3 linked regions of the Homo sapiens genome follow. The protein of the gene in region 2 interacts with the protein of the main gene of each other region in a pairwise test. Each region holds a gene or a part of one and is shown on either strand. Other genes may lie near its edges. The genes, in order: CCDC33, SYT17 and NINL.

Region 1 (3,649 bases), on a different chromosome or scaffold from region 2:
TTGACACTTTCAGTAGTTTTCCCATGGTCATGTTAGCTGGTATGTGGTGGAACCAGAATTTGGACCCAGACAGTCTGGCTCTAGAGCCTGAGCTCTGAACTCTCTTGTTATACACAGAGATTGTGTACTTGGCATGCTTCTCCTGTGTTACAGACGAGGACTCTTGTGGTTCAGTAATGTGCCTGAATTTCCACAGTGAGGATTTGAACTGTGGTTCAAATCAGGGTCTGGCTGGCTGAAAGCCTGAACTCTTGCACTGTCTCACAGGGTCACCCTGTACTTGTCTCCCAAGTTGCTCAGGGGCAATTTCTCTGGCTTGGTTCGTCATAGTCCCAGAGGCAAGACTGGCTTCTGGGGTTCCAGGGAGCTCCTCACTTCTAGACTGGGTGACTTCCCTGGTGGGTGCCTTGACAGAAGCTTCTGGAGAAGCCAAATTCTCCTATGGAGGTGTGGTGAGGTGGGGCAGGGTGAGGCAGGGTGGGGCCAGGTGGGCACGCTAGGGGCCCAGTTCAGGGCAGGGGGCTCACCATGATGGGGAGCCGCTCCACGTGAAGCCCGTCCAAGCCTTTCCCTGTCAGCATCTTCTGGTACAAACGGCTCTTTAGCGGCAACACAGAGATGCCCAGGGGCTGGTTGAGGGTCCACGGCTGGCTGCCTTTCACTGTGGGGGAAGGATCAACTAGGGCTCCTGCCAAAGCCCCCACCTCGGCCCCATCCTTTAATACCTGACATCCAGTCCTCCTGTCTCCCGCTGCCTGCTTTCCTGCCTCCTGGCCTTTCCCTGCACATACATCCTCTTCTCATCTTCAGGGCTTTGTGAACTCAAAGCCAACTCTAAACATACTCTGTGTGTCTGGGAATTTATATACATCAGCCTCATCTCTACCCTTTGGGGGCTTCAATCCCACAGTGCAGAAAACTGTGGATCAGCTGGTCTCTGAAGCCCATCTCCCTCACCCCTCTCTGTGAGTTCCGAGGGCTCCAGCCCTCCCCCATCACTGATGGGTGCAATAAAACAAAGCTTGGGGCCAAGACCTAGTATGGGACAGGCCCACGTGTCCTGGCCTGTGGACAAGGAACGCAGCCAGCTCTCCTCTGCCTGCATTAGGAAGCCGCCTGGACACCTGGGAACCATCCATCCCTGTGGGAGGCAGAGGTGGGATGGTCTGAACACCCTTTCATAATACAGATCTCCTGAGGCATGGCTGCCCTGGCGAGGCACCAGGGGTCACGTACTTGAAGTTGAGGAGTAGTACTCCAGCACCAGGGCTGTGTCTTCTGAGAAGCTGGTAGCTCCATCTCGGCCTTGGAAGAGGAAGGACTGATTCCACAGGGGCTGCTCTGGGGGTCCCCCAGGCTTGGACAGCTGGAGGGAGAGGGTAGGAGCAGGTGGTGGGGGCCACAGCTTCTCCCAAATCAAGGCATACACAGATATTTGGTTTTGTGTATCTAGATTTGTCACAAATGTTTCTCCCAACTATAAAAGCAAGCTGGCTGGGCACAGTGGCTCACGCCTGTAATTCCAGCACTTCGGGAGGCCAAGGCAAGTGGATCACTTGAGGTCAGGAGTTCAAGACCAGCCTGGCCAACATGGCAAAACCCTGTCTCTACTAAAAATACAAAAATTAGCTAGGTGTGGTGGGGGACTCCTGTAATCCCAGCTACCCAGGAGGCTGAGGCAGGAGAACTGCTTGAACCCGGGGGGGCAGAGGTTGCCCTGAGATGAGATTGCGCCACTGTACTCCAGCCTGGGTGACAGAGCGAAACTCCGTCTCTAAATAAATAAAATAAATAAATAAATAAATAAACAAATAAATGCAGCACACACCTAATAAATACATTTAGGAAAATGCAGAAAAATAGGAAGAAGAAAAACAGCTCCTGTGTTCCTATGATAAACACAATAATTCATAAAACTGTGCTTCTTCCTAGTTTTTTTCTGTGTATATTTTGTGTATAATCACCATTCTAGCATCCTGCATTTTTCATTTGCCAGTAAAACCTAAGCAGATCCAAAGTCACAGAAAGCTCATTACCCATGACTTGAGTAACTTCAGGATATGAAGTTCATGTCCAAGTGCCCTGATTTCTTCCTTCCCATTTTTCCCTGTAATAACACTGCATTGAACGTTCTCTGCTACATATCTTCATGTCGCAAATTACTTCCTTAGTACAACTACCTAAAATGGAATTGCTGGGTTATAGGACATGTGTATTTTAGGACACCTCATTCATTATTGGTAAACTGTTTTCCTAAAGTGTTGTATCTGTGTTCACACCCATGGCTGGTGGTGTCACAGATGCCAAGTTAGACATGACCTCTGTCTGTGTCACCAGCCCCTCTCTTTCCCACACAGTTTCCCCAGCCCCTTGCAGAGGCCAAGACATCTCTGCAGACTACAGAGGCTCCGTGTGCCCGCAGTGTGGGCCAGTGGGCACTCGGGGGACTTGATGGCACCCTAGGTCAGCAGTTAGGGCACACACATGGGTATGATTTAAACAATGAAACAAGACAGTATTAACTGTAGCACTGCCCAATAAGAGAGCTATATGAAATATTCCCATGGGTGGTCAGAAAAGCCTCCTTAAAGGAAGCAGAACCAGAGAAAGGCTCTGAAGGAAGGTCTGGCTGGGTGAAGAGAGGGATAAAGGTCTTCAGGATGGGAAAACAGCACAATCAAAAATGTGGAGTGGCACTGAGCACACCCTGTGCAGAGGACGCCTGAAATGAGGAGAGACTCCAGGGGGAGGCCCAGCATCTGCCAAGGCCAGAAGGTGGGAGATGGGAGATGGCCATCGGCCCATAACTCCCAGCAGGCAGCCCTGCAGGGTCCCAGCACAGGGCGGGGCTGCGGGTCGTTGCTACAGACCCACCAAGTGGCTGCCTTGCCTCTGTTCCCCAGCCAGGGGCTGTCAGCAACAGTAGCAGCCGCTCCCACCTCCTGCTCCCCCACAGGAATCAGTCATTGCTCGAAAAGGTCAGCACAAATGCACTGCGGCTCCAGGAGTTATTGATGCAGGATCATGAAATATCAGTGTAGGTCCACTTCCCCACAGTGGCAGGGTGCTGATGACGGTCACACTAATGGGCCTGGTTTGTCCAGGCCCAGCCCAAGGCTCAGCTGTGTCTGCCCCTGCCCCTGGGGAGATGGGTTGCAGTCACTGCAGGGCTAGGGTGCCCTGGACACCTGAACAGAGACTGCAATGATGGGAACATCCCACTTCTTATGGGAGCTTGGCCAACAGGTCCGGTGAGAGAAGTTGGTTCTGACTTCTGTGGGGCTTGGGAGTGATCTTTCAAGATTGATCCCCAAACCATGTCCCTCCCAGAGTCACCCCATTCTCCTGGGTGCAGGAGGGTCCACATGGCTGGGACTGTCTGCCAGGCATTGGGGCACCTGTGACTCAGTCCCCTGCCGTCCATACCTTGCTCCTACCCTGGAAGAGGGTTATTTAGTAGACGCTAGCTGCCCTTTCTGGGACCTATTCATGTGTCTAAATGGAGCCTATGAAGCCAGAGGTGGTGAGTGGCTGCCGGCCCAATAAGGAACAGCCCTTTCCCTGAGTAGTTTCCCAGGGCAAGTCACTTAGGAAAGATCACTTCAGACCTAGGACTGGGGAGGGAGGGTCAGCCTGTCTTGTGCATGTG
Region 2 (3,649 bases):
TGAGGCGGGTGGATCACGAGGTCAGGACATCGAGACCATCCTAGCTAACACGGTGAAACCCCATCTCTACTAAAAAAAATACAAAAAATTAGCCGGGCGTGGTGGCGGACGCCTGTAGTCCCAGCTACTCGGGAGGCTGAGGCAAGAGAATGGCATGAACCCGGGAGGCAGAGCTTGCAGTGAGCGAGATTGCACCACTGCACTCCAGCCTGGGCGACAGAGCTAGACTCCGTCTCAAAAAAAAAAAAAGGAGAATCACTTGAACCTTACCCAGTCTTGGGTATCCCTTTATCACAACAGAAAACAAACTAATACAGGTTGGGAGAAGGATGAATAACTAATTTGCACCACTGTTAAAAGGCAGAACCCCAGCTAAGCCAGTAATGCTAAACTCTAAATGGCACACACTCCCAATCGCCAAGTGGGGCATCTCTGAGAGGGCTGTAAGAGCTCTGCACATTGTAGGCATTCAATATGTGCTTGTTCGACAAACAATCAACCAACTTGACTTTAATTCACTCTTCAATGAGGGTCTTTCTGGCATTGCTTCAAAAAGCACCAGTCAGATTGTGCAGTTTTCCTAATCTTCACCAGCCCAGCCCAGCCAAGAAAAGTTGGGGGCCCACAGGACATGAGCATATGTGACAATTAATGTATCCCCAAGATCACACGCAGAGCACACACAAAGGGCCAGCTCATCTGCCACATGCCAGTCCACAGAGGCAAGTCCCATGGTTCTTGGCTCAAATGTCGCAGTAGGAACAGCACTGCAAAGCCCATACACTTGACATTTCTACTTCCTGTCTGTTTGATAACATGCAGCTGCCCACTTGGTAAATAAATCTGGGGAAAACACAAAGCTGTAAATTTACTTTCTGAATGATTTAGCCATCTTCCCTTTACAGATTTCTCTTACCGTTTTGCATTATGCTGAGTGTCAAAACTGTATTAAGCACTGCCCAGTGTTCAGAAGAGACCTCATTCATCCTGGGAAGCACAAAGGTCACGCACAGCTGTTCAGTCTGTAGACTGCACAACCCTAGGTGGTGCCATTCATAATGGCCACCATGTGAATGGCGCCACCTGGAATTTTGTGGTGTATTGGCCCTGCTGGGAAAGTTCCAGTCCACTTCTCTACTAGTGGCAAAACCAAAAGAAGTATCTTCCCAGAGGGTCCCAGCCCCCTTGCCCCTGCTTACACAAAGGGTTAGCAGCAGTCAAGGCAAAACGCAACTGTCCTCCAGCTCAACATGAGAACCTAGGCTGTGCATCTGTAACACTCAACATTTGGATATCTAGGGGGCAAACAGGTACCTGGCTGTGATACTCAACACCTGTGAGGGGTCTCCGCTGGTATCGAAGAAAATCCAGATTCCTTACTCTGGCATTCAAGACCCAACTCAGCCTAAGCTTGCAGGCTCCCCCAGCTCTTCCTAGATGTAGTTGTGGCCTGAATCCTACAGGTGTGTGTGGAGTTGAGATTTTTGGTGAAAGCAACTCATTAATCAAGCGATAATTCACAGCCGGTTGCCGCGGCTCTCACCTGTAATCCCAGTGCTTTGGGAGGCTGAGGTGGGAGGACTGCTTGAGGTCAGGAGTTTAAGACCAGCCTGGGCAACACAATGAGACGCCTATCTCTACAAGGGGTGATGTCTGCCCACCTCTCTAGTCAATTTCCTCCCCTCTAGTCACAATACCCCAATTGTCTATTACAGGGGTCTGCAAACTACAAAGCCAAATTCACTGCCTGATTTTGTAAATGAAGTGTTAATGAAACACAGACGTGCCCGTTCATTTACTGTCTACAGCTGCTTCTGCATAACAATGGTAGAAATAAGTAGCTGCAACAGAGACCATATGGCCCATGAGGCTAATATATTTATTATTTGGTCCTTTAAAAGTTTGCCAACCCCTGGTCTAATAGTTCAGTTCCTGTGTTTCTGGTGGAAATGACCATCTCCCTGGTTTCCTGGGTGGGCAGGTAACTGGCATGATTCTAGCACCATTTCCTCCAAGTGAAAGTGATTGGTACATAACCCGAGCCAGGCTAATAAGAGTCTTTCCTGGTTTTGTTTTGTTTGTTTGTTCGTTTTTTATGCAACCGCAACAGAATGCAAGTCTAGTGCTGCCACATGGAGAAAACAAGCTTAACAATGAGGCCAATACAGAAGAAACAGAGAAAGAAAGAGAGAGAGAGAAAGGCTCTGATGACATGATTTCTGCTCCTGGATCCAGCTATGCCTGAAGCCATCATTCCTGATTCTTTCATAACAAGGTCTTATGCAGGACTGTCATATATGGAATGCAGGGTGTAAATGCACAACTCTAGGGGGCAACCTGACTTACATACCTGCCTTACCTCCTACGTGAGACTGAAAATTCCCTGAGCATGGTCACAGGACCCTATCTAGCCCTGTGTATACCACAGCGCCTGGCACACTGTACTTAAGAAATAACTACAAAAGGAACTGAGATTAACTTTTCAACTGATGATTGGCACTTTCAGGATGCAAGTTCTGCCTGCAGGATAGTCTGTCAGTCAACAACTTTTTCTGAGTGAACAAGGCAGGCAAAACTCCCTGCCCACATGGAGATAGCATTCTTGTGAGCATAGCTTTAAGGACATCAGATGGACTGAACTAACTTCTGCTACATAGACCAGTAGAATCCTTTTTTTTTTTTTTTTTTTTTTGAAGTCTTGCTCTGTTGCGCAAGCTGGACTGCAGTGGCGTGATTATAGCTCACTGCAGCCCTGACTTTCCAGGCTCAAACGATCCTTCCAACTCAGCCTCCCGAAGAACTGGAACTCTAGGCACCAACGTGCCCAGCTAATTTTTTAAATTTTTGTAGAGATAGGGGTCTCATCGTGTTGCCCAGGCTGGTCTTAAACTCCTGACCTCAAGCAGTCCTCCCACCTCAGTCTCCCAAAGCACTGGGATTACAGATGAGAGCCACGGCACCCGGCTGTGAATTATCTCTTGATTAATGAGTTGCTTTCACCAAAAATCTCAACTCTACACACACCTGTAGGATTCAGGCCACAACTTATGAATAATGAATAATGGAAGAGTTCTTTAACATTGTGTTTGTATCAGTTTAATTAATCTCTATTGAAACCTAATACTGACAGAAATAAATGCTTATAAAACTTTTGCTCTGTGCTAAGCATATTATATGCATATCTCATTTATTTATTTATGTATTTATTTTTGAGACAGGGTCTCATTCTTTCCCAGGCTGGAGTGCAGTGGCGCAATCACAGCTCACTGTAGCCTCAACCTCCTAGGCTCAAGCGATCCTCCCACCTCAGCCTCCAGAGTAGCTGGGGCCACAGGCACACATCACCACATCCGGCTAATTTTTTGATGTTTTGTCGAGATGGGGCATGGGGGGGGTCTCACTATGTGGCCCAGGCTGGTCTCGAAATCCTGAGCTCAAGTGATCCGCCTGCCCTCAGCCTCCCAAAATGCTGGGATTACAGGCATGAGCCACTGCGCCCAGCCAGAGTTACTTACATGTATGATCACCAACAAAGTATCAAGCATTCCTAACTACTTTTCCACATTCCAAATTCATTGACTCCCTTCGACAACTCTGAGAGAAATACTATTCTTTTTATCATCCCATTTCACAGATGGGAAATCAAGGC
Region 3 (3,649 bases), on a different chromosome or scaffold from region 2:
CACAGCAGGGGGAATGAAGGCTGCTCGTTCTCTGACTGTAGATTATTCTGGATTCTCCAGAGGAACCCAACGTAATCACAAGTGTCCTTAGAGGTAGAAAGTGGAGGCAGAAGAGTCAGTGTTGGAGTAAGGTGACATGAGGAGGACTCGGCCATCCAGGGCTGGCTTCCAGGATGGAAGGACGCCTCAAGTCAAGGCCACTGGAGAAGGTGAGGCAGGGAGCTCCCCTCGGGGCCTCTGGATGGCCCTGCAGCCCTGCCAGCACCTCATTCCTAGCCCAAGGAGACCCTTTCCTCTTCCAACCTCTAAAACTAAAACATCGCACTTTTGTGCCTTGTTAAGCCACCAAGTCCGTGGAAATGCACACGAAGGAAGAACAGACGGACCAAGGGCCAACCATGCAGTGTCAGCAACCGGGTCTCTGACACGGACAGCAGACATTCCAAGGGTGGAGAGGCGGCCATTTAATGGCTAGATGTGCGTTCCTAAGAATACTGTCTTACAAAAATGAAGGAACATTTAAGATACTTTTCAGATAAGCAAAAACAGGAAATTTACTCTAAACAGAGTTTCACTAAAGGAACTTTTTTTTTTTTTGAGATGGAATCTTGCTCTGTCACCCAGGCTGGAGTGCAGTGAGTGGTGTGATCTCGGCTCACTGAAACCTCTGCCTCTCAGGTTCAAGCGATTCTCCTGCCTCAGCCTCCCAAGTAGCTGGGACTACAAGCGCATGCCACCATGCCCGGCTAATTTTTGTATTTTTTTTTTTTGGAGACAGAGTTTCGCTCTTGTTGCCCAGGCTGAAGTGCAGTGGCGCGATCTCAAAACTCACTGCAACTTCCACCTCCTGGGTTCAAGCGATTCTCCTGCCTTAGCCTCCCGAGTAGCTGGGATTACAGGCGCACGCCACCACACTAATTTTTGTATTTTTAGTAGAGATGGGGTTTCACCACGCTGGCCAGGCTGGTCTTGAACTCCTGACCTCAGGTGATCCACCCACCTTGGCCTCCCAAAGTGCTGAGATTACAGGCATGAACCACCGTGCCCTAGTTGTTACGAGGTTTTAAATTCCTGATTCCTGGTGGTGCACGCCTGTAATCCCAGCTACTCAGGAGGCTGAGGCAGGAGAATCGCTTGAACCTGGGAGGCAGAGGTTGCAGTGAGCCCAGACAGCACCACTGCACTCCAGCCTGGGCCACACAGCGAGACTCTGTCTCAAAAAAAACAAAAAACAAAAAACAAAAAAACCTCCTAACAAAGCCCAGGAGCTGATGGCTTCACTGGTGAATTCTACCACTTAAAAAAGAACTTCCACCACCTCTTCTCAAACTCTTCCAAGAATTGAAGAGAAGGGAACACTTCCAAACTCATTCTATGAGGCATTACTTGATACCAAAGCCAGACAAGGACACTACAGTCCAGAAAAGAAAACTGCAGACCAATCCCTTATGATGCAAAAATTGATGCTAAAATCCTCAACAAAATACTAGCAAAAGTTATTGTTTAATGGGTATACAGCCTCTTCTGGGAACAACAATGAAAAATCTTTGGAAGCGAGGGCCGGGCGCAGTGGCTCACGCCTGTAATCCCAGCACTTTGTGAGGCCAAGGCGGGCAGATCACCTTTGAGGACAGCCTGGCTAACATGGTGAAACCCCGTCTCTACTAAAAATACAAAAATTAGTCAGGCGTGGTGGCAGGTGCCTGTAATCCCAGCTACTTGGGAGGCTGATGCACAAGAATATCTTGAACCCGGAAGGTGGGTTCAGGACCCCGAAAGGCAGTCCTGCCCTCCCTCTGCCCAGTGGTAGAGCACCAGATGACCGTGGCATTCCGGGACGGGGCTGGGCTCACAACCCCTACTCAGGCTGAAGGGCTACACAGCCCCCATCAGGGGCTGCGAGCTTGTCGGCAGGAAGGGCCACATAGCACCATTAGCAACAGGGGTCAGTGGGTTAGTTCTGCATTTTTAGTTTGAAGTGTTTAGTTTTAAGAATGAGTAGAAGGCAAACCTGTCGTTCTCTCTCAAATCTACATGTTTCTCCAGAGCCCGGACGACGTCTTCCAGATGTAGAAGTTTGGTTTCCATGTCATCCTTCTCTCTCTCCAGCGCTATTTTGGTCTCCCCCTCTTCTGGGGCAGCAAGCTGCTCCTGCCAGGAACCCTGCGGGTCTGCGAGCTGGAGGTGGGATGGCAAGGACCCTCTCCTGGCAACCTCCACACTGTGCTTGTGACACCCAGGCTCCAGGGCGCCCTCGGCCCGGGCCTGCTGCTCCGAGGCCTGCTCCTGGGTGCCCCTGCTCCAGCTTCGTGCTCGCTCTTCCTGAATGGCCTGTAGCCTCTCAGCCTGTCCCCTGCACGAAGCGGCCGGCCTCAGGGGTGGCTCCCACATCCGTGGCTGGGTTTGCGAGGCGTCTCTCTCTGTTCCCAGCAGAGGCAGCTCCCGGGCTCCAGGCTGCTCCAGCCCCGCTGCGCTCGCGCCGAAAGGCTCTGGCTCCTTTGGGACAATATCCCCATCCACTCCACAGGGCTGCATGCGTGACCACCTCTCTGAGGGGCCGTGGGATGCCGGGGCAGGGGCGGGGGCCGGGCTCTGCGTAGCTTCTGTGTCCTGGGCTTGCCTGCGGCGAGGCCCGGCTCCTGCCGCCTCCTCAGACTCTCTGCCATCACCTGGGGCCAGCCAGGCCAGTGGCCGCTCCCCACAGCCCGGACGCAGTGGTAGGAGGCCACGTGTGCCCTCCTGGCCACTTCCTGCCACCAGCCCATCTTTCGGCAGGGCCTGCATCTCTGCTTCCAGGGAGGGCCCGTCCACTCGCTTCCCGCGGGCAAGCTCCAACTCCTCCTCCTCGAGGGCCAACGATACGCACATCTGGGCGCGCTTCTCGCTCGCACAGGGCTGCAGCTTCAGTGCCCTCTCCAGCTCCAGCTGCTCCGACCTCTGGCTCCCGCGTGGCAGGGGTCCCTGCGGCGGCTCCTCCAGCTCCAAGGTCAGGTCTCTGCGAGCGGGCAGGGCTCCCAGCCCCGACAGCTCTCCACTCAGCTCCGCCTCAGCCTCTCTCCTGTGGAAGTAGAACCGTCACACACCACAGCCCTGCCGCCCCCAGCCCCTCTCTCGGGTTTGAAGTCTGCCCAGCTGTTGCAACGGCTGCGACCTCCTCTCTGTGGTTGGCTTTCTTTATCCCTCCTCGCCTCCCTCAGCCCTGGCTTCAACCTATACCCTGGGCCCTACTTCAGAGTCCAGACGAGGATCCGCCCCACGGAGCGAGGTTCTGCACATGGAAGCCCAAGCACGAACCCTTTCCATGTGGAGTGTTCACATGGAAGATGGCCGCCACCATGCAGGACCTGGTTGCAGCCCCTCGGCCGTGCAGGCCACGTTCCAAGCCCTCAAGGCTCCCAACTGGACAGGGCAGACATACGACGTGGCCCACACTGCAGTGGGTTCTACACGATAGCGCTGGAGACCCAGAGCCAAAACTGTCCCCTAATTCCCTGAAGCTGCTGGGCCTTGGGACCTCTGGTGGCCCGCAGGAGAGTCCAGTGGAAGTGAAGTGAGAGCTGGCAAGACCACAGCACCAGAAGGGGTATGTGGTCCATGCCTGGCCAGGGCAAGGGGAGCAAGGAAGTGGTTGGAGGGCCTCCACCTCCAA

What was found.
Region 1: the proteins of SYT17 (region 2) and CCDC33 interact in a two-hybrid assay, tested with the Homo sapiens proteins (one large-scale study listed by BioGRID).
Region 3: the proteins of SYT17 (region 2) and NINL interact in a two-hybrid assay, tested with the Homo sapiens proteins (one large-scale study listed by BioGRID and IntAct).

The regions. Positions count from the first base shown.
Region 1 is NC_000015.10:74,277,680-74,281,328, reverse strand, and holds part of CCDC33 (coiled-coil domain-containing protein 33), read right to left. Parts: intron 2,211-3,649; exon of another isoform or gene 2,037-2,210; intron 1,367-2,036; coding exon 1,237-1,366; intron 662-1,236; coding exon 528-661; intron 1-527.
Region 2 is NC_000016.10:19,174,689-19,178,337, reverse strand, and holds part of SYT17 (synaptotagmin-17), read right to left. Parts: intron 1-3,649. UniProt on the Homo sapiens protein: Plays a role in dendrite formation by melanocytes.
Region 3 is NC_000020.11:25,474,032-25,477,680, forward strand, and holds part of NINL (ninein-like protein), read right to left. Parts: intron 3,059-3,649; coding exon 2,012-3,058; intron 1-2,011. UniProt on the Homo sapiens protein: Involved in the microtubule organization in interphase cells. Overexpression induces the fragmentation of the Golgi, and causes lysosomes to disperse toward the cell periphery; it also interferes with mitotic spindle assembly.